Linked DNA regions of Homo sapiens: all the other regions are linked to region 1. Evidence: fine-mapped expression QTL. A gene starts in region 1. Each other region holds a variant in brackets. All regions are shown on one strand. Distances are from middle to middle. Region 1 holds the start of FRY (FRY microtubule binding protein). Region 2 overlaps FRY (FRY microtubule binding protein). Region 3 overlaps FRY (FRY microtubule binding protein). Region 4 overlaps FRY (FRY microtubule binding protein).

Evidence for each region.
Region 2: its variant is fine-mapped to the expression of FRY in whole blood (TOPMed, PIP 0.91).
Region 3: its variant is fine-mapped to the expression of FRY in whole blood (TOPMed, PIP above 0.99).
Region 4: its variant is fine-mapped to the expression of FRY in monocytes (Quach 2016, PIP 0.90).

Annotation. Positions count from the first base shown.
Region 1 is chr13:32,027,675-32,035,433 of GRCh38, forward strand. FRY (FRY microtubule binding protein) reads left to right here and starts at 4,100. Exons shown (of 61, transcript NM_023037.3): 1 at 4,100-4,191. The coding sequence starts at 4,122. It overlaps FRY-AS1 (FRY antisense RNA 1), which reads right to left and starts at 3,965. Exons shown (of 4, transcript NR_103839.1): 1 at 3,777-3,965.
Region 2 is chr13:32,114,610-32,122,368 of GRCh38, forward strand. FRY (FRY microtubule binding protein) reads left to right here. Exons shown (of 61, transcript NM_023037.3): 4 at 2,725-2,864. Among named protein-coding and RNA genes, the nearest start is that of FRY, 87 kb to the left of the region's middle. The variant C/T (reference allele first, on the strand shown) is at 3,409.
Region 3 is chr13:32,085,290-32,093,048 of GRCh38, forward strand. The region is part of intron 2 of FRY (FRY microtubule binding protein); the gene reads left to right. Among named protein-coding and RNA genes, the nearest start is that of FRY, 57 kb to the left of the region's middle. The variant C/T (reference allele first, on the strand shown) is at 4,734.
Region 4 is chr13:32,094,520-32,102,278 of GRCh38, forward strand. FRY (FRY microtubule binding protein) reads left to right here. Exons shown (of 61, transcript NM_023037.3): 3 at 7,444-7,497. Among named protein-coding and RNA genes, the nearest start is that of FRY, 67 kb to the left of the region's middle. The variant G/A (reference allele first, on the strand shown) is at 3,589.

The sequences.
Region 1 (7,759 bases):
TGAATCAAATTAATGTAAAAAATAAAGGCATTCTTCTCTTGGTTTCTTGGAATTGGTTACAGTCCCCAGGGAATACATCACCCAGGACAAAGCCAGGCAGGAAGACAGTGAATAGGCTGGGAGAGTCAGTGGGACCTGAAGCGCCTCTGCTGTGTTAGGGAGTACCTTAGCATCTTTCCTGAACTTTTATTTATTTATTTATTTTTATTTTTTGAGATGGAGTCTTGCTCTGTTGCCCAGGCTGGAGTGCAGTGACAGAATCTAGGCTCACTGCAACCTCCGCCTCCTGGGTTCAAGTGATTCTCCTGCCTCAGCCTCCCAAGTAGCTGGGATTACAGGCGGGTGCCACCACGCCCAGCCAATTTTTGTATTTTTAGTAGAGATGGCGTTTCGCCATGTTGGCCAGGCTGGTCCTGAACTCCTGACCTCAAGTGATCCACCCGCCTTGGCCTTCTAAAATGCTGGGATTACAGCCATGAGCCACTGTGCCCAGCCTCTTCCTGAGCTTTCTCTAAAGAACTTGGTAACCATGATTCTCACCTTGCTTGTGATTTTTAAAAAAATAAATAAATAACAAAGTTATGACAAGTGACTCAGGGTCTAAAATAGACCTAAATTTTACTAGCTATATGAGTTTGACCTTATTTTATGCCTCCTTAAGCCTCAATTTTCTCATCTGTAAAATGGGACTAATAATAGTACTTACTTCATAGGTTTGAGGTGAGTATTAAATATAAAAATATATATTTTTTTAACTACAATATTTATATTCAACAAATGTAGATGGTGTCATTTAGTGTCATCACTTGTGTCAGGCCACTTTCCGACTTTTTCCCCACTCTTTGATACCATTTTCTAAGGCCTTCCACTTTTCCTGTTATCTTTCACTCAGTCCCCAACATCTATGCCTAATTCCATGCTTGACAATTCATTGTATGTTCTCCTAATATTTTTAAGGAAGGATCCCTCATTTTTACAGGTATGAAAGCTGAGATAGCTTTAGGTCCTCTTAAATCATAACTGAAGTCACTAGCAAGCCAGGAACACATTCAGATTTTACTGTTGCATTTTAAAGTACCTCTGTCCAGGTGCCTCTTCTGACTAATTTTTTTATGCCCCCCCAGAGAGAGAGAAGACAAAAGGATAAATGTTTCAACTCAGCTTGCAGCGGGTGTCATTCTATTTGATTTGCAGGCCTTTCAACAAAACAAAAGCCCTTTTCTGTTCTTTTACAATATATGTCCTCTTTAAAGGTACTCGAATGAAGAAAAAGCATACACTGGACAAGATTTCAGGTTCTAAGAGACAGAAACTGGGCTCTTAGATGCTGATTCACTCTTCACAGTGAAAGCTAGATGGCATTGAAAACATTATTTTCTAAGTAGCATTTACATTTTTATGACCGTTTCCCTTGAAATATATATGAGTGGCATTCTCAGCAAGTTAGTATGTTTATAGTAGTTAAATACTGAAAACTTATGTATTTAAGTATTGAAAACTTTAAAAAGCCAGTTAAAAATTTTTTAAAATAAAGTCAACAGAGAGAATCTCTATATATTTGAGTAACAATATACAATAGCATGTTTGCTTATTGCAACTGATTTTAAATGTCTCCAACTTGCTCTCCCCAAATAGTTACCACTGGTGTTCAAAAGTAATATATCTTTTAAACCACATAAAGAGTAAAGAAAAAAAAGTATTTAGCTTTTTAAAAAAAAGTTCTATTCTAGAGTCACTAAGGATTCATAATAAGAATGAATGGGCCAGGCGCAGTGGCTCATGTCTGTACTTTGGGAGACCAAGGCAGGTGGATCACCTGAGGTCAGGAGTTCAAGATCACCCCAGCCAACACTGTGAAACCCTATTTCTACTAAAAATACAAAAATTAGCCGGGCATGGTGGCGCATGCCTGTCACCCCAGCTACTCAGAAGGCTGAGGCAGGAGAATCGCTTGAACCCGGGAGGCAGAGGTTGCAGTGAGCCAAGATTGCACCACTGCATTCCAGCCCAGGCGACAGAGTGAGATTGTCTCAAAAAAAAAAAAAAAAAAAAAATCAATGTAGCTAAAATTTAATGAAGTGTTAACTATGGGCAAGATACTATGCTGAGCCCCTTTCATACATAGTGTTATTTATTGTTTCCAACAACTATAGGAAGAAGGTACAACCCCATTTTACAGATGAGGAAACGAAGGCTTAGCAAAGTTAATAGCTTACTTTGGGGCTCAAAGCTAGTAAGGGCTGGTGCCAGGAGCGAACATGGGGCCCTGCCTTGAGAGCCCATGCCATCGTTAATCGCAGGGCACTGTGCAGCCTACCTGTTCATTCACTGCCATCTGAGTCTTGGCAAGCATCAGATGGGCGTAGGTATGAAATTTATTTTCAGATATAATAATTGTTTCAAGGTAAAACCTTTGGGTCTTATTTTACCTAGAATCCATACATTCAAAGTACAAGTGATAAAATCAGTTCAGCAACTCTAGTATGCACATGAATTAAAAAGAAGTCAATCTGGTGAGAGATTTCATCAGAATAAAGTGTATAAGTGGAGTTGGAAATCTGAGTGATTGAGTGCTTGCCATTTGGGTAAGTGTAATGAGTTTGAAAAACTAATTGTATTGATGAAGTATCTTAGGGCCTTTCAGAACATAGTTCTAGAAGTTTTATTTAGTGTTGAATTTTAAAAATTCTTTGTCCTAACAATAAAAGTACATTGTAGTCTTTCCCTTCCATTTTTAAAATGAACTGTTAATCTAGGAAGTCCTGTTTGTGTGTTGATTTGGGGAGTTAGCCCAACATTTGCTATGTTAAATACTTATTAACATGGTTTATTACTTTTTTCTGTTTTTTAGACAACATTAATCATGAATGTACTGGGACTTGGGAAGGATCCTGTGGTTTATGAGATAGTTGGCCAAATCCCACCTCTTCCAACATAACCTGTCATTATTAAAATATAATACTCTTATTTAATCCCCTGGTCAAGCTAAATGATAATGTGAAACAAAGCTAACCAAAATCAGGACACCTGATATCAAGAATTCATGAAATCAAGAGCCATTGTAGAGCAAGGAATCTAATGCTTTTGCTTCTTATCCTTTTCATACAAATAAAATAAGCTTCACTGGGCTTAGTGAGTCTTAGAAATGAGAGGTTTGAGAATAAGATCCATTGTGGAGTGTGTGACATTACAAAAACAAGCCAACTAAGCAGTGTGTACTGTCCCCTTAGAGTGCACACGTTCGGGCTCCGATGCCCCTTGAAAAGACTGCATTTCTGGGAGGGAAAAGTAAAAATGCAGATACCACCATGCGTGTGGAAGGCAGGGAAGAAAAAGCCCAGACAAGCGTCCTCTTGTTGAGTCTCTTTACTGCAACGAGGCTGACGGATGGGGTTTTTCAAAACGTCGCTGCAACCAGATGCAAGGCTGCAGCTTTGCTTACCGCAGCGTGCTGCAGTTGTGTTTATTTCAGGGACAGACACAAGGGGAAGCAGCAGCCAGAGCACACCCGGGCCGCTCACGGGAAGCCTTGCTGAAGAGAGAGGATCCGCAGAAGCTGGGAAATTCCTCCCGCAGCCTAGGCGGAGACTGAGCCGCGGCTCAGGTTGAGACAGTGGGCAGGGGCAGGGGGCGGCGCTCCCGGCCCATCCCTTAGCCCCGCGGCGGCCGTGTGGGCCGGAGGCTGCCTGCACCGCGTCAGGGAGGCCGGCCTAGAAACCCTCCCTCCCAGAAGAAAGCCGATCCCAGTTCAGGTGGGGTCTTCCTCGGTTGCGTACCTGGCTGGAGCCGAGCTGGTGGGCGGCCGGCAGCCGGCGTTTCTGGTGATGACAGCCCCGAAATGAAAGCAGCGCGGCCGCCGCCTCCGAGGGCTGCAGGGAGATCAGCGTCCAGCAAATAAGAAGCAAGTCCTGGACCCGGAGGAGGAGGAGCGGCCGAGCATCTCTCTCTGCTCCGCCGTGTCCTTTAGATGAGCACTCCCGGCCGGAGCCGGAGGTGGATCCGCAGAGCTGCCTCTGGGCGCCTGACCCCGCGCTGACATCACAACCTGTGACAGGCGCATCACGCCCGGTACCTGCTCCCGGCCGCTGCCCGTCCTCCCAGCCTCTTTGTATGCCGCAGACATGGCCAGCCAGCAGGATTCGGGCTTCTTTGAGATCAGTATCAAATATTTACTGAAATCCTGGAGTAATAGTGAGTAATAGAAAATAACCTTTTTGTTTGTTTGTTTGCTGGATGTTGCATAAGGCTGGAGACAGAAAATCTCAACTGGACACATATGTTTGTGAGCCGCGGAAGTTTTTCTTTTTTTCTTTTCTTTTCTTTTCTCTTTCTTTCTTTCTTTCTTTCTTTTTCTTTCTTTCTTTCTTTCTTTTTTTGCTCCCATCTGCTGTGAAAATCAAAATGTCAGAGACTGAACTAGCTTTCCTTAAGTGCAAAGGCTGCAATGGAATTACAGTAGATTGTGTTTGATTAAATTTTCAAGTGAGGCAGCCCTTCAGACTCTGGGGGAGCTCAGGATCAGGCATTCCTGGCTGCATTTCCTGCCTTGATGTTTATTTGATTTGTTCAGGCTTTCTCTAAATATTTTGTGAAGTGTGATTTAATCAAAGGGGTGTGGCAGGGTTTCAGAGTACTTTGTAATTGTTTTTTTAGGGTATTGTCTGAAGAAAGAAAAGTATTTAATAGTCCAAAACCTAGGACATCCTTTTTGTATATAGAGGCATCTGCAGATTTATTTCATCTCTCCCTCTTCCATGTGGATGATGTTCTGAATGCCATTTAATATTTGAATTTTTAAAAATCCTGATGTTTGCTATAGTCCAAATATTGTGCTTTTTTGAAACATAAACAAGTGAGGTTCTGACCCTAATTATTTATTAGGATAGCAGAATATGATGGCTCCTGAAGTTCCATTTCTGACCTACATAAGGATTTTAGCAATACGCTATTTCAAAAAGACAACCTCTAAGCTGCCGTGGATCTGGAATCAAATTAAAATGAGGCCTTCAGGTGATCAATGATGCCTTGTATTTTCCGAACTGTTTAAAAAGAAAGTCTTCTCTATTTCACTAACAGCCTTTGTACTTGCTTTGGATAAAAGATCAGCAGGTATTACTGATGCTTTATTGTTTTAAATAAAAAAATTTTTTCCCCGTGAAAATTTTAATATTGTATTATGTGCATACTGATTAACCTACCTGTGCTCAAAGAGCTAGTGATTAATTGTCTCCTACACAAATGACCTGTGGCCAAGATTGTTCTTATATAAACAAAACCTGGGCAGGAGAACCTGTGCTGCAATTGCTTTGAGGAAAAGAGCTAAAGTACCTTCAGCCTTAAGGTATTCAGGGATGTGCATCTCTAAATGATATCCATAGAAACCATTTTTTCCAGGTCATTTTGCACCACTGTATACACTATGGGGCTTGTCTGAAGCTGTTTTTCTACAAGTGGGAAGCCATTTGGGAGTAATACTGTTGCCCAAACAGCATTCTTTACTTGTCATAGCTATAAATCATTTAACTTGGACTCATTATTTTTATAATACTTTACACTCAAGGATGAATCTTCCTTTGTCTATCTGCTCTTTGATTAATGAAAAGAATTTGACATACAGTGTTCTTTATGGAGCAGTTTTCCAATAACTGAAAAAACTCACTTTTGAGTTGACATCAGTACGTGGTTTTTAAACATATTTGATTATTCCAAGACCAGACTGTTTTCTTCCATCAATTTTTGTCATTGCATCATTAAATAGAAAATTATGTTGTGACAATACTGAGGCCAATGGGATTTCTTTTAAAAATTTCTCTCCCCTTGTCTATTTTCAAATCACTCTAGATAAAGTATATATTCTCTCCACCCTTCCTAAACTCCTCTCCCCACATACATACTTCAGGAAATGATTCAAAATGACTGTTCATTTCTACTTTGAGAATATCTGTGATACAATTTTGAATTCTTCCAATTCATTCAGCAAATATTTATTGAATACCTACTATGTGCCAGGCTGTGGGGCTACACAAGGTGAATAAGACACAGTCCCTGCCCACTATATTAATTTTTTTATTTCAGAGTAGTGAAGTTGGTGGCTTTCCAGCATTCTTTTGAGGGGGAGAATGTTTTTCAGTCCTTTCTTGAAAGAGGAAGAGGAAATATACTTTGTTTATCTTCTTTAAGCTTGTTACAACACTAACCTGCTTACAATCTAGCATAGTTCTCATTGCTAAGTTTTACATATTTTGAGCAGCAAAGAGAGAAAGGAATTTGTCTGTGTAGAAGGCAAAGTAGAAACAGAAGCCCTAAGGCTCAACATACTCAGTGTAACCTTGGCTGAGAGGATGCACCATGAGGCAAGCGGCTAATTGCACCTGCATGCACCTGCACGCGCATGCCTGGCCTCACAAGTTTGAGAGGTGAGGATGTCTGCCCACATACCTGAATGGAGACTCAGCCTCTTAATTATATGGTGGTGCTTATTTACAAAAGTGCAGTAATTAAAAAGCAATAAAACAAACTCTATAACTATGACTGGCTGTTTTGCAAGGTGTTAGAAGAAAGGTAATTCCATAAGCGTTTCCAGGTAAAGCTTTCCATATTTTTTTAAATGGCACATTGTGGGGAAAATGTAATTATATATATATTAGTCCCCTCCAAAGAATTCACAGGCCAATAAATAGATCAGTCGCTGGCTAGTGAGATGTACTAGCTTTCATTCGATGTTCATTTTGGTGTTCTCCTCTTTATCGGCACGTCTACTCTGTCATGCTGCCCTTTGATTTGAATGGAGGTGGGAATTAAAATGGCCTTGATGTCTGGAAATAAAATGTCCTATGTAGACCTGAATATGGAGGCTTTCCTGTCCCCTTGGATGTCTGTCCTGTTGCTCTTCCCTGCTCTTATCCAGCCTTTCCCCAGCTGTCTAGTGGTTCTCACGGCTGCGGCCCCTTGTTAATCATGGCCACAGCCTCCACATGCCCTTCTCAGTTTAACCTGGAATGCTCCAGTGGTGTCCTCACAGTCAAAGGCTGCTCCCCAGCTCCCTTTTGCCTCTGAGTGTCAGTGGTAGCCACTCAGGACCCTCTTTGAGCTCCTCGTTCATCCTCTCTCATGTTTTTCTGCTCCAGCCAACCAAGCTTAATCTACTCACTCTCCTCTGTATTTAACTAACATGCTCCCAAATTCATGCCTGTACACCCATCAGTCTCCTAATAAGGCCTCGCTTACCTAGAATGTAAAAATGGCAGGGCCAAATGGGCTTCAGATCTCTTGCTCCTGCACTTGCATGGCTTCGGACAGTTAAGTAATCACTCTCAGTTTCCTCATCTGTAAAATGTACGCAAAAATAATGGGTACCTCATAGGAGTAAATGAGGTATTAAGATGTAAAGCACTTAGCACAATACCTAGCACATTGTAAATGCCCAATAAGCATTAAAATAATATTCATGTATTCTAATGCCCTCCTCCCTTCTAAATCCACTTCAAATCGGATGTAGACCATGTCTTCCCTTAGCCTTGGCATCCAAAGTGGGTTATTTTATGAGTAATCAACACTTGCTACACTCTAGAGAAGAGAACTACATAAATAAATGTCAAAATTAGTTGGTTATTTTGGGCTGGTTTTTTTTCTCCCAGATTTACATTTTTAACTTTACCCCTTGACTACTTTAACTTTCTACCTCACTTACTATTAAAATATCCCACTTACCCTAAGTGCATACTTTCTAGCAGCTTGGGAGTTGGTCTGGGAATTTTCT
Region 2 (7,759 bases), 87 kb after region 1:
AAATTATTGAAATATAACTGTAATGCTTTGAAATTTCGTTACCTATGTAATAATTAAGATAGTCATCCTATAGTCAGAAACTCTGAATTCTGATCCCTTTTTCTTCAATGGGAGGAATGTCCTTCATTTCTCAATTCAAAACATTTTAGATGTTGGTGACTTCGGAAAGTAAATATCCTTTCTCATGTTGGGATAACTTTAGAAAGAATTAGTGAATTACTACCTTGCCACATCATGATTAGCTTTCTTCTGAAAAGTTACTGCTGTTACATTCATGACCACAGCAGGAAAAATATGTCTTGGCTGTGGATTTCACTAGAGTCAAGGGAAGGGTGACTCTTTAAATAATTAGATTGCTCTTCAGTTTTAAAAAGTTTATGCTGACTAGGTTAACAGGGCAGGCTGAATGCAATAGCCTATTTATTTTTACCTTATATTAACTCATAACTAAAGATAATGTACAATTTTGTATGTGTACATATAACCATCATTATGGGAGAGACAGCATGAAGTAGGCTATGAAGTGGTAGAATGTGAGAAAGAAAGCAATAAATATTTTGTTCAATCTTAAGGTTTCTTTTAAAGGTGACAGTGGAAAATCCTATTGACACAAAGCACTTTAGCTCCCTTTGCTCTCATTTCCTGCTTTATAAAAGGAAGTGAAGCCCGGCCTGCTTAACTGCAGAAATATTGTGAGTTAACTAAGGATTTCCATTTCTTCTGCCATCTCTGCTTCTCAGGCCGAGATCACAGAATGCCTGGAATCACTGCCATCACCTCATGCAGTTCAAGCATGTGTGTGAATTTGCCTCCACATCACCCCACTGTTTGGGGGATTCAGCCTCCCCATACACAATTTGTATGGGCTTATGTCCCTATTCAAAAATCTTTAGAGTCTTCTCATTTTCTAGAGAAGAAAAATTTTCAGCATTATGTTCCTTCACTCTGGCAAAATAAAGTCTTCATACCAGTCAGATATTTCTTCTTTCATTTCACTCAAAACCTTCGTCACATCAATTGTGATAATCATCAACAGTTACTTTATACCTTCATTACTAAAGGCTTTTTCTACCTTGAGTCTTTGCTTTTTTTTTTCTTGGGTCTCATCTCAAATTTCTACCCTTTCTAAAATAGTCCCAGGTAAACTCTCATCTTCATTTCTCTTAAATTCCCAGCCTCCTTCTCCCTCTAGTGATCTGACCTAAGAACCCCTGGTTTTCACATGCACTCTATATGTTAGTATGTTTCCTTCTGGTCCTGTTTTCTGCATATGTATACTTACATAGTATCTCTAACAAATTGGAATCATACCAATTAAATGATTCTTCATTTTTTTCATTTACCATATCATGAACATTTTCATGTCATATTTTTATATTTATATTAAAATATGATTTTAATGGTTTCAAAAATAGTCCACACCAAATTCCACATCTTATTAAGCATTTACATGTAGTTGGACATTTATGTTGTTTCCATCCTTTTGCTATAATAAATAATGCTGTCCTGCACCTTCTTACTTATCTTTAATTATGGACTTGAGATAAATTCTAAGAGTGGCCTTCTTGGGAATGATTTTTATTAGGTTCTTGATATGTATTTCCAGAGATGTTATGCCTGTTTTTTTCTATCAGCGGTATATGAATATATCCACTTTATCACTGCTCATCAACTCTGGGCGTTATAATTTGCTTATACAGTTTGTTGATTAGCTAGTTAAAACCCATTTCATTGTAGTTTTACATATTCTGGAGACAAGGCCTTAGTCAGACATGTGTTTCGCAAATATTTTCTCCCACTCTGTGGTTTGTCCCTTATCACGATCTTAACTGAATTCTTCTAAAAGCAGAAGTTTTTGGTTTTGAAGAGTTTCATTATATGAAATTTTATCATAGACTTTGCTTATGGGGCCGTACCTAAGAAATCCTTGCCTAATACAAAGTCACAAAGGTTTTATCCTATGTTTTCTTGGAGTTTTATATTTTTAGGTTTTATACTTAAATTTATGAGGCATTTTGTGGAAACTTTTGCATAGAGTAATGAGATATGGATTGAAGTGTTTTTTTATAGTAATCAGTTAAAAAATCAGGACTCTTTCCAGATAAGGAAATTAGAATAACAATTCTACCAAAGGCACATTTGTTCTTTAAAGAAAAAGGGAGAAGTTTGCCTTTAATGTAACAGGGGGTAAATTATTGCTGCCCATTTATATTTTGAGTCTAATTTGGGGCATACTTCAAATTAATGAATGAATAATTATTGTCCAAAACCATACATTATTATTACCACTTAGGTTATTTGGTGATGGGGGCAGATTTGTTTATATCATGTAAATTATTAATGTAACTGTATTCATATATTTATACAACAAACATTTTTAGGACGGAAGAAGCATTCATCTACTTTAGGCAGATGAACGTGGGAACATAATATCTTTGCAGTTCCATGAATAACCTGTATGCAATTAACATCTGATTTCTAGAATGAAAGGGAGTCAAAGTAATTAACTTTCTTGAACTACAAAATTATTCTTATATGGGGAACATTTGTCACCATTAAGAGACAGGCTCTTGGGAATGTACTAATAAAGATTATGAAAGAAAGGACTGTGATACGGAAGAAAATATTTTAGTGAGTAGTGCTTGGGGTTACTTGTGAAATAAAAAGTTTCTCAGTAATTGGCAGTGCTACCAGTGTTCTAATCACCTGCATTTTCCTCCATAGGTCATCAGCTCAATGAGCTCCCTTTCTGAGTACTGCCTGCCTTCCATTCTACGTACATTATTTGACTGGTATAAAAGGCAAAATGGCATTGAGGATGAATCACATGAATACAGACCAAGAACAAGCAATAAATCAAAAAGGTACATTTCTTTTGTGTAAGGATCATGGTTTTATTTTGTTTTGTTTTCAGGAAACATAAATCAAAATTAGAGTTACAAGGCAATTGGGTCTTCCTGACTCTTCACAAGGATGCCTAGCAGGTGCTGCAGGGGCCCTGTGTCTGTAGCAGGTAACCCATTTGGAGCACCGAGTCACTGCCAGCCGTCACGGGTTGAAAATTCATACACAGCTTTATTTCAACTTTGGTGGAGACAGGTGTGAAGGGCCACAGGTCACTTTCTTGCCAGCTTCTTTCCTCTGCCCTCTCCCACTGAGTCTACACCCAAAGCAGAATGCTGACTTCAGGCCTTGCGTGACATGCCAAGATATTTTAGTCCTCGTTCCAGTAACCTTGAGTGCTCAGTGTACTGTAGTGGGAAGGACGCTGGACTGGACGTTAGTGGTAGTCCTGGCGCTGCCACTATTTAGCCATGTGACTTTGGGCAGCTCCCCGCCTCTCTGTACCTCAGCCTCCTTGTGAGCAAAACAAGGAAGTTAGGTGACACCATCTCCAACTCCTCCTTC[C/T]AGCTGAGTATTTTGTTTATTTATTCTCTGTTCCCTTCTTCCTGTGGGTTTGAAAAATGGAACTTGCTGCTCCAGGAGCATATCAGCATCTGTAAAACTTAAGATTCTCATTAATGTGTGTCCTCCCCAAATTTTAGGTAAGCACATATAATTTCATATGTTTAGTCAACCTATAGCAAGGCAGTGAATATAAGAAAGATTAATACACTTACCTTTTTTAAAAAAAATAAAAGATTATTTTAAAAAGTAGTTAGATTTCTCCACATGAATGGATTATTCCAATTAAAAAAATACTTTTAAAGTCTGTAAACTGAAATTAATCAACCAGAAAATCAGACATTAACTACTTTTTGTGAATGATTTATTTCTCTCATTTTTCTTGAAAGTCCTAATACTGTTTCAAAAGACTTCTTTTGAAATAGAAGAATTGTAACATTACCATGTTACACTTCAACAAAATTTGTAATCTGCTTTTATAATGTGCTTGAATTTATGCAAGATTTAATCATATAATTTTGTTTGGGAGAGAGATTAATAACTTTTTCGTATTGAATTTTTTTTAGTGAAGAAGGAAATTTTTAGAATTTTTAGATATAACTCAGATGCCATAAAATTCACCCTTTTAAAGTATATAATTCAATGTTTTTAGTATATTTACAGGGTTGTACAACCATTACCACTCTAATTTCAGAACATTTTTATCACCCCCAAATCCTGTACCCATTAGCAGCCTCTCCTCATGAATATTTTTTTAATTTATCAGGTTTTAAAAATAGAATTTAAATTGTTTATCTGAAAAATGGTTCAGACCATGTGATTAAGAAATTAAAAGGATCATTTTATTATTTTTTCCATATTACATGTTGTCTTATGAACAGATATTAAACCTTCCCAGGGGCAGGGAGTGGGACAGTTTTTAGTGAGTTGAATTGAGTTTTAGTTTTGTTCCTCTGTTTTGTCAGAATTTAGTTGCTGAAATTAGATTTTTCATGAATTGATTTCTTTATGGATTAAAAATTATAGTTTTTAAAATTGTGTTACTGATTATTTTCAGGAGATCAGAGTAAGTACTGAGATCAGATAAAGAATCAGGACAGTAAAATTTGACTTAGTAGCATTTTAGTTAATGCTTGAATTTTTAAAATAAGAGAGAAAATGTGCTTAGAAAACAGCCAAATGAATGAAGCTCTCTAGGGTATGGTGTAGCTAAATGTGAGTTTCTGCTACTAGGAAAAAAAGGTTGGGGGGACTTTAAGGAGGAGCATAAACTACTGAAAATAGATGTCAGGGATGCACATTGGGTTGTGATTTCTGAGATTAGTACAGTATCAGCATTTGGACTGCCAAATAAATCTGTCAAATGTCTCTGGCTCCTGGCAGTTAGACTGCAAACCAGCAATAAAGTTGAATTCATTATTAGAAATGTATATGTCTTACTTTGATTTGAAAACATAATTTGGCTTATTAAATAAAATAGAATCAAAGGTCTACATTTTTTTTTCTGCCAAGAACTGCTACTTTCTCAGGTTCCTCTGGCCACTTGTAAAGACCCTTAGCATCCAGCACAAAAATACTCTCTCTACTGCTGCTGGCCATCTCTGGGAGTTCTCCTTCCTTTTGGTCTTTCCAACTTCCTGTCTCCTTATTCTATAATATAATGGATATAAAGCCTGATTTCTGAGTGCCCTCCTTTTTAATGCAGCTGCATAGATTTTCCTTTCCCCCAGCTCGCAGTGCCGCTTACTAGTTCCAGTGGGTCTTGAAGGACTTTAGATAGATGGTTTTGTTCACAGCTCTTTCTCCTGGCAGGGCTGTTCATAAATGATCCTGAAAGAATGAGTTCCTACTCTGTTGATACATTTACTCCTTGAAAGATAAACATGCAAGTTCCTTCTTAACGCGTTCTGTCATCCACCAGCCTTAATTTGACTTGCTCAAAGTTACAGAGCACTCCAGAAGGTCTTCTTTATATCTTAAATATCACATTATTTTCTTCTTATTCCCTTTTGACTAAAGAGAAAAACATTCCAGATTTAAAATAGTCTTGATTTATTTTGAAAAGATCTTCCTGGCAAGTCTAAATCCTGTCATCCCTCCTCATTGGTTTTATTTAATATATACTATTGAGCATTTATGTGTTTGGGAAATTATGCTAAATACTTTACATGTTTTATCTTCTCAAACTATTATGTAAGTACTATTATTCACATTTTGTAGATGGAGAAATTGCCGATAAATAGAAGAGGCATAATTTTATGCCAGACTGTTCCACACCAGAGTCAGTGCTCTAGGCCACTTCTTGTGCCAAGGAGCCCAGCAGTAATTTCATCTGTCTTTGTTCAATTCCAAATGAGCCCTCAATCAGTGTGTTAGTCAAGCAGAAAATGGGGTAGAGGGACTGCCTTCCTGTTCTTCTGACAGTGCTGATTCTGCTTCTAACTTTTTTAAACATTTATTTATTTTTCCGTACGTTATTGGGGTACAGGTGGTATTTGATTACATGAGTAGGTTCTTTAGTGGTTATTTGTGAGATTTTGGTGCACCCATCACCCAAGCAGTACACATTGTACCATATTTGTAGTCTTTTATCCCTCGCCCCACTCCCACTCTTCCCCCCAAGTCCCCGAAGTCCATTGTATCATTCTTTTTTGTTTGTTTGTTTGAGACGGAGTCTCACTCTGTCACCAAGGCTGGAGTGCAATGGCATGATCTCAGCTCACTGCAACCTCCACCTCCCAGGTTCAAGTGATTCTCCTGCCTCAGCCTCCCAAGTAGCTGGAACTACAGGCATGCACCACTGTGCCTGGCTAATTTTTGTATTTTTAGTAGAGACGGGGTTTCACTATGTTGGCCAAGCTGGTCTTGAACTCGTGACCTCATGATCCGCCCACCTTGGCCTCCCAAAGTGCTGGGATTACAGGCGTGAGCCACCATGCCCAGCCCACATTGTATCATTCTGATGCCTTTGCATACTCACAGCTTAGCTCCCACATATCAATAGAATGTTTGGTTTTCCATTCCTGAGTTACTTAACTTAGAATAATAGTCTCCAATCTCATCCAGGTCACTGCAAATGCTGTTAATTCATTCCTTTTTATGGCTGCATAGTATTCGATCATATATATATACCACAGTTTCTTTATCCACTCATTGATTGATGGGCGTTTAGGTTGGTTTACGATTTTGCTATCATGATTTGTGCCACTATAAACATGCATGTGCAAGTATCTTTTTCGAATAATGACTTCTTTTCCTCTGGGTAGATACCCAGTAGTGGGATTGCTGGATCAAATGGTAATTCTACTTTTAGTTCTTTATGGAATCTCCACACTGTTTTCCATAGCAGCTATACTAGTTTATATTCCCACCAGCATTGCAGAAGTGTTCCCTGTTCACTGCATCCACGCCAACATCTACGGGTTTTTTTGTTTTTTGTTTTTTGTTTTTATGGCCGTTCTTGCAGGAGTAAGTTGGTATCACATGTGGTTTTGATTTGCATTTCCCTGATCATTAGTCATGTTGAGATATTTTTTCATATGTTTGTTGGCCATTTGTATGTCTTCTTCTGAGAATTGTCTACTCATGACCTTAGCCCACTTTTTGGTGGGGTGGTTTTTTTCTTACTGATTTGTTGGCATTCATTTTAGATTCTAGATATTAGTCCTTTGTCAGATGTATAGATTGTGAAGATTTTCTCCCACTCTGTGGGTTGTCTGTTTACTCTGCTGACTGTTCCTTTTGCCGTGCAAAAGCTCTTTAGTTTAATTAGGTCCCAGCTATTTATCTTTGTTTTTATTGCATTTGCTTTTGGGTTTTGGGTCATGAAATCCTTGCCTAAGTCAGTGTCTAGAAGGGTTTTTCCAATGTTATCTTCTAGAATTTTTATAGTTTCAGGTCTTAGGTTTAAGTCCTTAATCCATCTTGAGTTGATTTTTGTATAAGGTGAGAGATGAAGATCTAGTTTCATTCTCCTACATGTGGCTAGCCAATTATCCCAGCACCATTTGTTGAAAAGGGTGCCCTCTCCCTACTTTATGTTTTTGTATGTTTTGTCGAAGATCAGTTAGCTGTAAACACCACATAAACAGAATTAAAAACAAAAATCACATGTTCATCCCAATAGATGCAGAAAAAGCATTAGACAGGCCGGGCGCAGTGGCTCACACCTGTAATCCCAGCACTTTGGGAGGCCGAGGTGGGTGGATCACAAGGTCAGAAGATCGAGACCATCCTGGCTAACACAGTGAAACCCTGTCTCTACTAAAAATACAAAAAATTAGCTGGGCATGGTGGTAGGCGCCTATAGTCCCAGCTACTCGGGAGGCTGAGGCGGGATAATGGTGTGAACCCG
Region 3 (7,759 bases), 58 kb after region 1:
GTCTGTCTATATAGCATCTATTACTGTAGTCACAGGCAATTACCTTCTCAGTAAGCTCTTTCCAAAAACAAGACTCTCCAGTTTTTCTGAATTCAAGTGCTGCTATCAATTTTGACTTTGTAGATCAAATGGACAAAAGAGATAAAGTTAAAGACAAAACAGCTTTTCATTCTGACTGATCCGGATTTGACTCCTGCTTCCACCTCTTTAGTGTTGTGTGACCTTGGACCAGCCAGTCAACCTCCTTTTTTTCTCATTTGCAAAATGGAAGTAACAGTACCCAGCTCACAGGGTGGTTGAGAGGATTAGAGGGAGTGTGTGGAGCCCCTGATACACTCCTGAGCATGTAGGAGATGCTCATTTGTCCTCATCACCACCCTCCTCATTATCCTCATTGGAGGGCTGAGATGAATTTCTGGTATATTTCCTCAGAAGTCAGCCTGGTGCTTCCTCTCTTTGTGTTCACGCAAACATAATGGAGGCTTGAGCAGGGGACTTGACTGTCTCCTGTTGCCATTTATCAATACTGTCAGGTGCCTGTCCTGAGCTCTGCCATGGCATTGACAGAGACACAACCACAGCTCCTTTCAGCAGACCTGGTCTTAGCCCTCCAGGTGCTCATGCTTTGGGAGATGACAGAGGCAAACAAAGTACTTAAGAGAAGACAACACCCCCAACGATCTCACTGTATTTCCAGCAAAATACTTGAGTCCTACCCAGGTGTGAATTGTGAAGACCTAGGCGGTAAAACCAGAGATTTGAGGTAAGTCCGCCTCTGAGGGTTTTCAAAGGCTTTCAAAGAGGAAATTTCATTGGTTCTTGAGAGTAGGGGTCTCAGAAAAAAATAAGAACCGCATAATGGCCAGGCAGCCCAAAATATGAAAGGCTGGATTACTCAGCTAAGTAAACCAAGTTTAGAAAATTTCAAGAATTTTCAATCACACTTCTTAGGCTTTTGTCCACGCCCCTCCCTATAACTTGACCAATACACAAGAAAATTGGTTTTTTATTATAGCCCTGCCACTAACCTGTGCTTCTGGCAAAGTCACCTACGTGTGATCTGTCATTGTTTTCTCGTCTATGAAAGGATAGCAGCCAGGCCATTTTCACTCTAGTGTATAAAACAAATGAAATAAAAGCAGCATTCACTCTCAAACCCCTGGGTTTAAACTCTTAAATTCCCTGGGTTTAAATCCCTGGGTTTAAACTCACTTATTAGTGAGTCTGTCCAGGTTTAATCTCCCATTGTCCCTTCCAGGAGCTGCAGTGGAAGCTAAATTGGGGATTGGGCCAGGAATTCCATCTGGATCTAGTCTATCAGCATAAAATGTCATCGGGAAGAAGAAAAAGAAATTCTAACTTGCCTGACAAAGAATTACTCAGAAAGAAAGTAATTTACTGTGTTTTGATTTTGAAACCTGGAAAAACGAAAAGTTTTTTTTAAGTCTACTTGACTTAAAAAAAAAATCTAACTTTAATCTTGTCCTTCAGCAGAGACTAAGAATGAGAGCTGTGCTTATCTTCATCCAACACCCTGGAATTCAAAAACACTTTTTATGACGAAAGATGAGTGAAAATGGGGATTTTCATTATTGAGGTTGCTTGAGCCTTAGTAGCCTTGTTCACAAAATAGTTAACGGACAAGATGCAGGCAGGATATTTTAGACATTGCCCCTGTGCTGAGTTAGGAGCACAGGTGTGGGCTGACAGAGTGATAATTCATAAAGGTGCTAACTGTGTCATGCTGGAATGGAGGCTTAAAAATAATAGAACATGATCTAGCTGGTTTGCTAACATGAAAGAAGTAAACTCAAAGTAACACAAACTATTTTCTTGGGGTACACAGTCTGAAGAATCCAGGATGCCAAACTCTATTGCATCACACATCATGAATCTGTAATGAAATATGTCATGCTTAAGAACAAACCTGTAGGAACATCAGTCATGGCCAGCCGGCACAAACACTGAAAGGCCAGGCAATTAGCTAATGACAGCATTACTGCTTGCTAGTGTTGTTCCAGGTTCAGGCAGTAACGTTGTTGACATACCTTTGTTCCTTGGCCCAGAGTCTGAGGCTTCCAACTCCTCCTGTGTGTTGATGTTACAAAGCTGGCATCAGGACAACTCTCCTGTTACCCCTAAAGTTAAGTAGGACGCTGTGCTGTAATAAGGACACTGGTGGCCCACCACCAACAGATGGTATATGATGAATGGTTCTAGTCATTTTGATGAACGGGACTGTGGGTCTAAGTAAGCAAGTCCTTTGGCAAGTGACATACATACTCATCCCAGCTTCCTCTTGTGATTTTAGACCATATCTGATGAGAAGTAAGAGACTGAATTTAGGATACACCCTATTTTTAGGTGTAAAAGAGGTTTTTTCACCTCTGGGCCATCTAGAGATTGAACATTCATCCATAGTCTTGTATTTCATTCATTCACATGAGTGATGTGTGTGCAGACTTCTAGATATCAGAAAATATCAGATCCTTTCATCCGGAACCCTTTTTAGTATTTTAGTAATTTGTGAATTGGAAATTCTGCTGTGCTAAAGGACAGAATGACTACCTCTAATTAAGTTTGGATCTTTATATGGCAGATCTTCATAAAACTGATTGTAATTTACTAATCATCTTCATAGGCTTATCACCATTTACTAACCTCAGCCATATGATATTTCATAATATTTTATCATGCCCATTTGCAAGTTGGTTGTTTTTCTGCACTGCTCTACATGCCAATCTTCCTATACTAAGCAAAGGTTACATGTCTGTTGACTAAGGATGTGTAAATAGCAGAAATGCCAGCCTTAATGTCTTTCTGCACTGTGGATTCCAGTCAGCTTCCCAGAAGGATAATCAGCTAGTCTTGTTGGTCAAACTCCTCTTTAAATAGAGGCTGCTGTTGCTTCAACAGACCAAATAAGGGAAATATAGAGTAAAAGTAATTTCATGTAGCTCCCTGTTGAGTGTAGTGATAGAATCAAAGCAATGCTGTCCTGAAAAGAGACTAAAACATTGCTGGTCAGATAGGGAATATTTATATCACACTTGACAACATACTGGCTAGTTTTCAAATTATAAATAAATAACTTTTAAAATAGCTGTTTCTTAGCAAAACAGCTTAGCCTGGAACGTCCCTTAAATAATCTATAAAGACATTCACCAAAAACTTGAAAATTCACCCTAACCCAGAAACATAGCATTGTTAGTAGCTAAAAAGATTCAATTTAACTGCTGAATGAGGTGATCTTTCAGATGAGCTCATAAGTTTGTTTTCTTTATCATGAGTATGCTTGGAGACATGTAGATGAAACACATTTCTTCTGTGGCTCCTAAATGGAACTTTTTCAGATGTGAAATGAAATTTAATACACCACCATAGTTTGATTGAACCTTATAGCAAATAAATGATGTGAAAATATCACCAGGTAATAAAAAATATCAGAGGGCTTTTTACTTCAATTTAATAGTATCCAATTCAATTCATTCATGGATAAGGCCATAATTTTTATTTTTATTTCTGGTGACTTTATGAAGAGATTATCGAAGTTTCCTTTTTTTGAGAATACAAAACCAGACAAAGGTAATTCCTCATTTCGGTCTAGTTTTTCTGATGATATGTTCTTTGTACTATTTACAAAGACATCCTTTTTAATACAAACAAAAGATCATCTGGAAGTATATGTTTTAGAGTGACAGAAAATACCAATAAAAATACGTTCAATAATAATGGCATAATACCAAGTAACAATGGCTCATTCCTTAAGGTCACTGTGATGTAATATTGCTGTGTTTCCACACAACATTTTGCATTTTGACATTCCTGAAAATCATCAGTACAGTTTTCAGCAATAGCAAGTTTTACTATAGCATTGTAGCAATTTTAACCGGCACAAATTTTGATTTCTACGGTCATGCTAACAATAAGACTTGTTTTATTAGGTATTTTTACTGTTGCTTACATACATATCTAGTATATTCTGACTTTTAAAATTTCTTAAAACACAATATTCTATTTGATAATATTTCCTGATGCTTTTGGGAATTTCTACTCAATTCCTAAGTTGTAATCACATAGGTTGAAGGCAGGGGGGTTGGAATATTCCTGTAGGCTTTCCCAAGATGATTCAGCCATGAAGAATGTGAACATTCAAGGAAAAGACTATGCAGGCCACAGAGAAGGAATGTCTGGTGGGCACAGTGGCTCACACCTGTAATCCCAGCACCTTGGGAGGCTGAGGTGGGAAAATTGTTTGAGTCCAGGAGTTTGAGACCAGCCTGTGCAACGTGGTGAGACCCCCCATCTCTATCTACAAAAAATAAAAACAAAAAAATTAGCCAGGCGTGGTGGCACATGCCTGTGCTTCCAGAGGCTGAGGTGGGAGGACCATTTGAATGAGGCTGCAGTAAGCCGTGTTAACACCACTGCTCTCCACTCCAGCCTAAGTGACAGAGTGAGACCTTGTCTCCAAAAAAAGAAAAAAAGAAGAAGGAATGTCTAAGAAGTAGGAGGAGAACAGATGGGAGGTGGAGGGCAATTCAAGTGGAAAGAAGGGAGTGAACATTGCAGCTAAAAGATCCAGCATGAAAAATGGCCACCAGATTTGCCATTTGGAAAGTTACTGGGGTCCCTAGGGAGACTAATTTTAGTGGTGAAAGAAAGGCCAGATTGCAAGTAGTTGAAGACATTTTGAATAGGAGAGGAAAGAAAGACAGGAAGTGTAGACCACC[C/T]ATTGGAGAACTGAATATGAGAAGAGGGTTAGAAAGGAAACCACAGCCGGGCGCTGTGGCTCATGCCTGTAATCCCAGCACTTTGGGAGGCCGAGGCGGGTGGATCACGAGGTCAGGAGCTCAAGACCATCCTGGCTAACACGGTGGAACCCCGTCTCTACTAAAAATATTAAAAATTAGCCAGGCGTGGTGGTGGGCGCCTGTAGTCCCAGCTACTCGGGAGGCTGAGGCGGGAGAATGGCGTGAACCCGGAAGTCGGAGGTTGCAGTGAGCCGAGGTGGCACCACTGCACTCTAGCAGCCTGGGCGACAGAGCTGGACTCCATCTCAAAAAAAAAAAAAAAAAAAAAAGGAAACCACAGCCAGAGGTGGATGTGTGGTCAAGGAAGGCACTACGATGAAAAGGTTTAAGCATGTTGATAGCTGAGAGAAAGACCGAAGAGAAGGGAAGGGTGGAAGACAGGGGTCACTGAGGAGCTGGCTGATGGAGCCATGTCCTGAAGGAGATAGGAAAAGATCCATCCACACACACTGTAGTAGACACTGAAAGTCTACTGAGTGAACATAACATGCACAGTTAGAGGGGTATATTGGGACAAATAAAATTGAAAAGACCAACAAAATAGAAAGTTACCCAGAAACAAACAAATGAAGGTTGTATCTTACATTTCTTAGTAGCTGCTGTAGTTCTTTTTTTTTTCTTTTTTAAAGAATGCCTATGAGAGCTGCTCTTTTGTTCAATTAAAATGAAGATTAACTTTGTAGCTGAATTTAAGTGAAGTTTCTCTTCCACTGTTCAAATAATGGATTTGTACTTAGGGTTGTTAAATGTGGCAGAGAAATAGGCTCCACTGAAATGAGCAAAACCACTGCAAATAGGACAGATTATCTCAAGAGATTTTGCTTAAAAAAAAAGTGCCAACATATTCTTCCAGATTTACATCTGCCTTCAGTTTTCATAGCATAGGGTACTGGGCAGCATCTTACCTGATAGTACCTTGGATTTATTTGTGCTGTGTCTTCTGTATCATTCTCTTTTGTTTCTTTTTCCCCAGTATTTTAGGTGAAAGGCAGCATTTATTATTTCGCTTAAGAAAATTCATTTTAATAACTAAATGGAATAAAAGGGGAGAAGTTTTGTCAGGGTTTTGACTATTTCTCATTAGTTATTAGAAACCTACTCAGGATGTCATAGGGTGATGTCCATTTTTACAAACTGAGGCAGGTTATCAAGGGGGCTAAGTCTTCCACCAGAAGTCCAGTGATCCATGCAGTCAGTCAATTGACATGACCAGAGTACATCTTCAAGATTAATCACACCAGTGGGGTGCCGATTACCCCTCATGATGGGGAAGTCATTTGGGGAGTAATGGTCAGTATTCAGAACTGTGAGTCTTCAGGCTCACTCTTTAGATGTTTTTCCAAACTTGAGTCAAAGTTGGCACAAATGAGATCTGATGAGAAAAAGATGTCAGACATGAAAACATTTGGGACCCCGTTATTCTTTGGTTCATACGAAGTAGAGTGCCTGCGGCTGGGTGTAGATAGTTCTGAACAAAACGCTTTGGTGCATTTTCACAGTTGGGTCCACAGCTCTCTACTGTGAAGGGTGCCACCACATGGGGTGAGGAAGCTCACCACTAGGCATCTTCCCGTGTTCTGGTGAAGAAGAGAGATCCTAATGGTGGTAGTTCCATTCTGAAATTCTTTATTAACCACTAAGACCAGACATTTATATTATAAAATTTCACTGCTGCTGATATCAAAACCCTCAACTGATTATGTGTATCCTCATTTTTTCTAAAAGATAGCTGAAGCTTAGAGAAGTTAAGAAAGGGCCATAAGTTGAGAGGACCTAGGATTCAAACTCAGGTCTCTCAGATTTCAAAGCCCACACCCTTAACTGCTACATCCACTGTTGTAATAATTAAAAGACTTTAAAATAGCATCTTAAGCAAGGTTAGTGATATATTTAACTAATTGAATAATCTCATATTAACTCCAATAGCATTGCTGGGTTAAACACATTCATTGAAATCTCTCTAAATGCCCAGATGTCACCACAACGCAGTATATCCATGTAACAAAACTGCACTTCTACCCCTTAAATGTAAACACATTTTTAAAAAAGAAATATCTCTGAGGGCAGTAATACTTTGGATCTTTCTAGATTAGTGAAATCTTACCTGTGTGGAGCACACTTGAAATTTTGGAAGGCCACTAAAAAGTTAGAAGTAGAAAGTTATTTGTATTAAATGACCCCTTGTATAATACCTCAAATAAAACACGTCTTGATATATCAGACTCCCTCTAGACTTCTAAGTGACTGTGGCCTGTCTGTCTGGCCATCTTTCTTTCCTCCTAAAGATTACAGAGATGTATGATATGAAAAGATTGTGAAGTGAAGATGTAATTCGTGTACACCAAAATTGTTTGAAAATTAAGGTAGAGGGCGATGGCTTTCCTCGGCCCTTCTTAGTTAGATGTGGACACAAGGAGTGTTTAAAGTCTGTATTTTTTTAAGCTGAGAGTAGGGAAGATTGGAACTCCTCAGGGTGTGAGAAGCACAAACAGCTGTATTCCTATGGAAATACTGAAACTCCTGCAGAATTCTTCAGCGCAGGAGAAAATTCCCCTTGCGTGGGTTGGGACAGCAGTAGTCTCTGATTCAGAGGGAGAAAACTCAAAGAGAAACCCAGAGTGCGAACTGAGGACTACATCTTACTTCTCACGCAGCAGGTGAGGTATCTCTGAGATTTGGCCACCCAAATCCAGTCTGCAAATGGGGAGAAATGAACAGTGGTCCGTTTTATAGCTCCACCAGGAAAAGATCAAAAAAATTGGAGAATTGCTATTAGAATAAGTTTTGAGAGTATCTTATGTCATCTTTAAAAACGAGACATTGTAAGATTTTAACAGTGATGATAAGTGATGCATCACGACCTCCTGTTTTTAGTTTTTGTTTGTTTGTTTTTTCTAAAGAATTTAAAACGTAAACATATGCAAACAGAATAGCACAATGAACCT
Region 4 (7,759 bases), 67 kb after region 1:
CCTTCCCAGCCTCTAATAAACATCCTTCTACTCTGTGTCTATGAGTTCAATTGTTTTAATCTTTAGATCCCACAAATAAGTGAGAACATGCAATGTTTATCTTTCTGTGCTTGGCTTACTTCACTTAATGACCTCCAGTTCCATCCATGTTGTTGCAAATGACAGGATCTCATTTCTTTTTTATGGCTGAATAGTACTTCATCGTGTATATGTGTCACATTTTCTTTATCCATTCATCTCTTGATGGACACTTAGGTTGCTTCTAAATCTTGGCTATTGTGCACAGAGCTGCAACAAATGTGGGAGTGCAGATATCTTTTCCAAATACTGATTTCCTCTCAGTATTTGGAAAAGATTGCTGGATCATATGGTAGCTCTATTTCTAGTTTTTTGAGAAACCTCCGAACTGTTCTCCATAGTGGTTGTACTAATTTACATTCCCACCAACCAGTGTATGAAGGTTCCCTTTTCTCCATATGCTTGCCAGCATTTGTTGTTGCCTGTCTTTTGGATATAAGCCATTTTAACTGGGGTGTGATGGTTTCTCACTGTAGTTTTGACTTGCATTTCTCTGATGATCAGTGATGTTGAGCACCTTTCATATTCATGTTTGCCATTTGTATTCTTTTAAGAAATGTCTAGTCAAGTCTTTTGCCCATTTTTTGATCGGATGATTAGATTTTTTCCCATAGGGTTGTTTGAACTCCGTGTATATTTTGGTTCTTAATCCATGTCAGATGCATAGTTTGCAAATATTTTCTCCTGTTCTGTGGATTGTCTCTTCACTTTGTTGATTGTTTCCTTTGCTGTATGGAAGCTTTTTTTTTTTTTTTTTTTTTTTTTTTTGAGACGGAGTCTCACTCTGTCACCCAGGCTGGAGTGCAGTGGCGCAGTCTTGGCTCACTGCAACCTCTGCCTCCTGGGTTCCAGCAATTCACTGCCTCAGCCTCCCAAGTGGCTGGGATTACAGGCGTGCGCCCCCAGCCCAGCTAATTTTGTATTTTTGGTAGAGACGGGATTTCACCATGTTGGTCAGCCTGGTCTCGAACTCCTGACCTCGTGATCCACCCACCTTGGTCTCCCAAAGTGCTGAGATTATAGGCGTGAGCCACCCTGCCTGGCCACTGTGTGGAAGCTTTTTAACTTGATGTGATCCCATTTGTTAATTTTTGCTTGGGTTGCCTGTGCTTGTGGGGTACTACTCAAGAAAATTTGCCCAGACCAATGTCCTGGAGATTTTCCCCAATGTTTTCTTGTACTAATTTCATATTTTGAGGTCTTAGATTTACAGGTCTCTTTTCTGAAGCAGGCCTGAGACTTACGGATCTTTCCCTTGTATTCAGATGGCTCTCTTCTGAGCTGGAGCAAGTTTGCCTCTAACCTTTCCTCTCTTTTTATCTCTCTATCCTTCCTCCCCTCTTTTCTTTCTTCCTCCATCCTTCCTTTCTTCCCTTTTATTCCCTCTTTCCTTCCTTCCATCTTTCTTCCTTCCTTTTTTCCTCCCTTCCCTCCTTCCTGTCTTTATTTCTTCACTCATCCTTTCTTTCTTCCCTCTTTCTTATATTCTTTCCCTTTCTCCCTTTCTTCCTTTCATCTTTTGTTCTCTTTATTTTTTAGCTACTATGGTATTCTGTCCCCTAGGTGTACTCTCAAGTCTCATCTCACTGATAAAATCTATGTTGATGCAAAGATAATCTTGGTAATGTTAAAATGTGAACCTGATTCTCTGTTCGCAAAGCTATCTTTCCAAATGCATACAGTTATAGTCAGCCATTTAACACACCCTGATAACTTCCAACTGTGTACTAGGGGTATGGAGGAGACAGACAAGTTACAACATGGTGGGAATGCTAACAAGAATAGGTGCAAATAATGTACTGTGTGACAACTAACAGGTGACTCTGCTAGGGAAAACTGCGGGGGGGGGCTTCATCTGGGAAATGACATTTAAGCTGAGTCTTCAAAGAATATGATTAAGACAGTATATTTGTGTGCAGGTGCAGTGGCACGCCTGTAATCCTAGCAGTTTGGGAGGCCCAGGTGGGCGGATCACCTGCGGTCAGGGGTTTGAGACCAGCCAGGCCAACATGGTAAAACCCCATCTCTACTAAAAATACAAAAATTAGCCAGGCATGGTGGCACGTGCCTGTAATCCCACCTACTCCAGAGCCTGAGGCTGAGGCTGAGGCAGGAGAATCTCTTGAATGCAGGAGGCAGAGGCGGCAGTGAGCTGAGATCATGCCACTGCCATTCAGCCTGGGTGACAGAGCAAGACTCTGTCTCAAAAAAAAAAAAAAAAAAAAAAAGATAGTATATTTGTGTAAAAATAGTTAAGGAAAACTTAGCAACTTAGCATGTTATTTTATTGCAGCATTGACCCCAAGTTCTTAGCTAATGGACTTGACTTTTATGTATAGCAACAACTTATATATATATATCAACTTTGCTTATTGGAGAAAGTGAGCCTGACAATATGTTGTTTCCTTCATATGTATGCAAAAATGTGTAAGTGTAAAATACCATGTTTATCAGCTTCCCATCTAATTTGTAGTGGGACAAAAATAACTTTTAGGTAGGTATGGGGAGCTTTGGGATGTGGGTGGACACAGTCACCTTTCTTTCCCCGCTGTGGCAGGATCTTCTTTTAGGTAGTAGTGAAAGAGGATTGCCTTCTGTGCTCCCACTATGTGAACTCCTGAGTTGTTGTAGGGGTCTACAGACCCACAGGTGTGCTGAGTTATCATTTGTCTGAGTTTTAAGGTCTCCCATATAGATGTATTCCCATGTTTCTAGTATGTATAAAAGAAGTATTTTTGCTACTCTAGTACAGAACCTTTTTTTCCTTTTTTTTTTTTTTTTTGAGATGGAGTCTTGCTCTGTGGCCCCAGGCTGAGTGCAGTGGCATGATCTTGGCTCACTGCAACCTCCACCTCCTGGTTCAAGCGATTCTCCCACCTCAGCCTCCCTAGTAGCTGGGATTACAGGTGCCCGCCACCACACTCAGCTAATTTTTGTGTTTTTAGTAGAGACAGGGTTTCACCATGTTGGCCAGGCTGGTCTCGAATTCCCAACATCAGGTGATCTGCCCACCTCGGCCTCCCAAAGTCCTGGGATTATAGCCATAAGCCACCGTGCCCGGCCCAGAACCATTTAAAAGTATCATTGGAGCTGTAGTATTAGCTCTCTGTCATTATGTATAGTTTTAAACAATAGATTCTAAAATAAAATTACTATCTTATATGTTTGGAGTGTGTGTGTGTGTTGGTTAAGAAGTTTTTGAACATTTCTGGAACTAAAAGGAATCTTCATAAAATAGATAATGATAATGTTTGAACAACATTTGAATGTACTTAGTGCCACTGATTTCTACACTTTAAAGTGCTAAATCTTCTGCTATGTATATTTTACCACAATAAAGAGTATTTTTAAAAAAATTTAAAACTTAAAACAAGACATATACACAGAAAATAAAGGGATTTTCATATTTGAAAAAACTGGACACCACTGTCCTAGAACTTCTATTAATCTGGCAAATGCGTAGCCAGCACCAAGCGAAATGCACATGGTGGTCTCACCTACAAGCCTGAG[G/A]TTTCATCAAGAGCCTTACAAATTCCAACTACTCTGTCTCCATTGCAAAATATACAGGTTCAAAATGTGTATTCATCTAAAATACAGAGAATACTGTGTTTTTATGGGTAAACAAACATTTTCTGTTCAAAGTATACTATTTAGATATAATGAATAAATACTATATGTATTCATCAATCAACAGTGTCTGAAGGTTCACAGCATGTCACATGCTACATATCAGGTGGAATGCTGCATGTCAGGCGAGCCATGCTCTGTCCTGTGACTTTAAGTGTTGAAAGAAACAGAGGTCGCTTCATTTCTGGGGCCTGCCACCTAGCAGGGATGGTGCTCGGTGCCTCACTCATGAATGTGTAATTGCACAAGATGATGACTGTGATGTGACTTTACTCTATGGTAAGGTCAGTGAAAGGACAAATACATGAGGCTTTGCAGGCATGTACAGGGAGAGACACCAGGTGTTAGGGGATGGCTCAGAGAAGGGCTTCCCTGAAGAAGTGATAGTTCAGCTGAGGTTTGAATAATGAACAAGTAGAGACAACACTCATAAGAGGAAATTAACCACATTTCCCCTCTCAGACTCGACTCTTCTCCCCAGTAGTGTGTATCGTGTGTTCTTCAGTGTTCCACCCCGGCATGTAGCATTTGACGCATTGTGAACCCTCAGTCACTGTTGAGTGATGAATAAACATATAGTATCTATTCATTATATCTAGATAGTATACTCTGAACAGAAAATGTTACCCATAAGAACACAGTATTCTTTGTATTTTACATGAATACACATTTTGAACCTGTATATTTTGCAATGGAGACAGAGTAGTTGATTTGTAAGGCTCTTGGTGAAACCTCAGACTTGCAGGATAAGACCACCATGTGCGTTTCTTCAAGAACAAAGACAGTTGGGGCAGGGGTGGGGCTTGTATATGCCTTAGGTAAGATCATCTTTGTGAGTGGAGGAGAGGATTGGAGAAATGATTAGACCCACAGTGAGAGGGTCTATGTGAGCAGGTACATATAAATGGAGTCTTGCTAGGGAACCTGCATTGGCCAAAGTAAAACTTAATATTTTTTGATATATAACTTTTGCATTGTTTCTAATCCTCAACCAAATTTTGGATCAGAATGAACTTCCATAACAAAGACATATATATATGTGTATATATGTATATATATACAGGTTCAAAATGTGTATTCATCTAAAATACAGAGATATATATATATACACACACACATACATACACACACACTAACACATACACACACACAAATAAGGGTAAGTAACATAAAATGCTCTGCTGGAGGCTTAAAAAGCAATACCGCGTGAGTTGAGTCATTTTGGAAAGGGTGAATTAGCAATATATATTATTCTATAATTAAAAATTCAAGTTGTCCGAGTTTTAAAAAGCTCTCTGAAAGAGCACAAAGAAATACGATTTTGAAAACGTATAATACAGTCAGCATAAAAGCTCTATTTCCTTTGTGTGAATGAACATTTCCCATGTAATTAATTTACTTACAATAGATACTTCAAATCCTTCTACCAGATATGTAAAAATTTCTTTCTGAAATGCATTGAAAACAGAAAACTATTCATGATGAATATTTTCCTCAGAAATTTCAGTTTGGAAAACTGAGGTCTTGCTTTGAGTTACATTTTCTGGAGTTCTCAAAATGTCAATAATGTCTGAATTAAACTCTTTGAATTGAAAAAAAAATGCTCTGCTGGAAGATCAGTTAAGGCTTCCTAATGTAAACAAAGATGTAATAATTAAGGTGAATTGTTTCTGTAGTAGACTCTTGTTACTACTGATATTATTTTTGCAGAGAACTAGATGTGGTGCAAGAAAAATCACATGCCCCAAATTCACCAGTTACACCTAGTAAATGTATGATTGGTAGGTTCTCCCTCAGTACCAGTCTAATAAATAAACCTTACTTTGCTTCTAAATCTAGGGACTTGGAATAGTGAATTGCTTTCAACTTTTTATTTTATTTTATTTATTTTTATTTTTTAAGATGGAGTCTTGCTCTGTCACCAGGCTGGAGTGCCGTGGAGCAATCTTGGGTTCAAGTAATTCTCCTGCCTCAGCCTCCCGAGTAGCTGGGATTACGGGCACACACCACCTTGCCCAGCTAATTTTTGTATTTTTAGTAGAGACAGGATTTCACTGTGTTGACCAGGATGGTCTCCATCTCTTGACCTCGTGTTCTGCCCGCCTCGGCCTCCCAAAGTGCTGGGATTACAGACGTGAGCCAATGCACCTGGCCGTGACTTTTTATTATCTGTCAAATCCCAAGATAAATATTAAATTTTTCAAATAAATTTTACGGTTTTTATTATGTTGTTGCCATTGAAGACATAGGACCACTTATAGCATCAGATTCTTTTTATAAAATTGGCAAATAAGTTTATTTATGGTGTTACAACATGATGTTTTGATATATGTATAATGAGTAAATCAAGCTAATTAACATTTCTATCACATTACGTAAATTTTTTTTGTGATGAGAACATTTAAAAATCTACTTTCTCAGCAGTTTTCAAGTATACAATGTATCTTAGTCCATTCAGGCTGCTATAACAAATTACTATAAAATAAATGGCTTATCAACAATAGACATCTACTGCTCAGAGTTTTGGATACCCAGAAGTCCAAGATCAAAGCACGGGGATATTTGGTTGCTGGTGAGTTCCCCCTTTCTTTATAGATGGTGCCTTCCCGCTGCATCTTCACATGGCAGAAGGGGAGAACAAGCTCCTTAGGACCTCTTACTGATCCCACTCAGGAGGGTTCTGCCCTCGTGATTTAATCTCCTCCCAAAGGCCCCACCTCTTAACACCATCACCTTGAAGGTTTCAGCGTATGAATTTTTGGGGGATACATTGAGGCCATAGCACAATACATTATTAACTGCAGTCACCATGCTATACAGTAGCTCTCCAGAACTTATTCTTCCTATCTAAATGAAACTCTGTACTCTTTGATCAACATCTTCCATTTCCTCTCATTCCTCTCTCGCCAGCCCCTGGTAACTACCATTCTAGTCTCTGCTTCCATGAATTTGACTTTTGTTGATTTCAGGTTTATGTGAGATTGTGCAGTATTTGTCTTTCTGTGCCTGGCTTATACACTCAGCATAATAATAATACTCCAGGTTCGTCCATGTTGTCAAAAATAACAGGATTTCCTTCTTTTTTAAGGCTAAATCGTCTTCCATTGTATATATATGTAGCACATTTTCTTTATCCATTCATCCACTGATGGATACTTAGACTGACTCTATATTTTGGTTATTGTGAATAATGCTGCAGTTAACATGAGCATGCAGATATCTTTCAAGATACTGATTTCATTTTCTTTGGATACATACCCAGAAGCTGAATTGCTGGATCATATGGTAGTTCTATTTTTAATTTTTTGAAAATCCTCCATACTTTTTTCCACAGTGGCTCCACTAATTTACATTCCCACTAACAATATACAAGAGTTCTCTTTTCTCTACATGTTTGCCAACATTTATTATCTTTTGTCTTTTTGATAAAAGTCCTTATGACAGGTATGAGGTGATATCTCATTGTAGTTTTGAGTTTCCCTAAGTATCAGATTCTTAATGTTTTGGTCAAAGAGACATGTATTAAGATGAATAGCAAGAGTCGTGGCAGTAATGATCAAACATAACTACTATGGTTACAATACCTAAGGGAGAATACCTCACTCATTTAAAAATTGGTGCCTCCTGATTCCATAATGAGAGAAATGAGTGAGAAAAAATGGAACAATAATGGCATTTCTTTTATACTATTTAAGAGACTCTAATAATTATTCTTGCATATATTCTTTTTCTTTCTAGGAAAAGCCATTGACAAAATCTCTGCAACGTGGAGAAGACCCCCAATTTGATCAGGTATGTGATATATATGTTATATACTAGTTTTCCTTTATTTCAGCATTCACGCAAGGCAAGGTCTGCATGCTCACTATTGTTGTATGGATGAACATCCTCAAAAAGTATATGGGTATGTGGTCTTAAGAACTGTACCCTGCAGTTTTCATGGTTGTGGTTTATAGCTGTTCAGTAAATGTCTATTGGTTAGAATCAAAAAGAACTGGAAAGTATTGGGATAATATGAGTAGGTCTTCAATTGATTATTTCCTAAATCTTTACA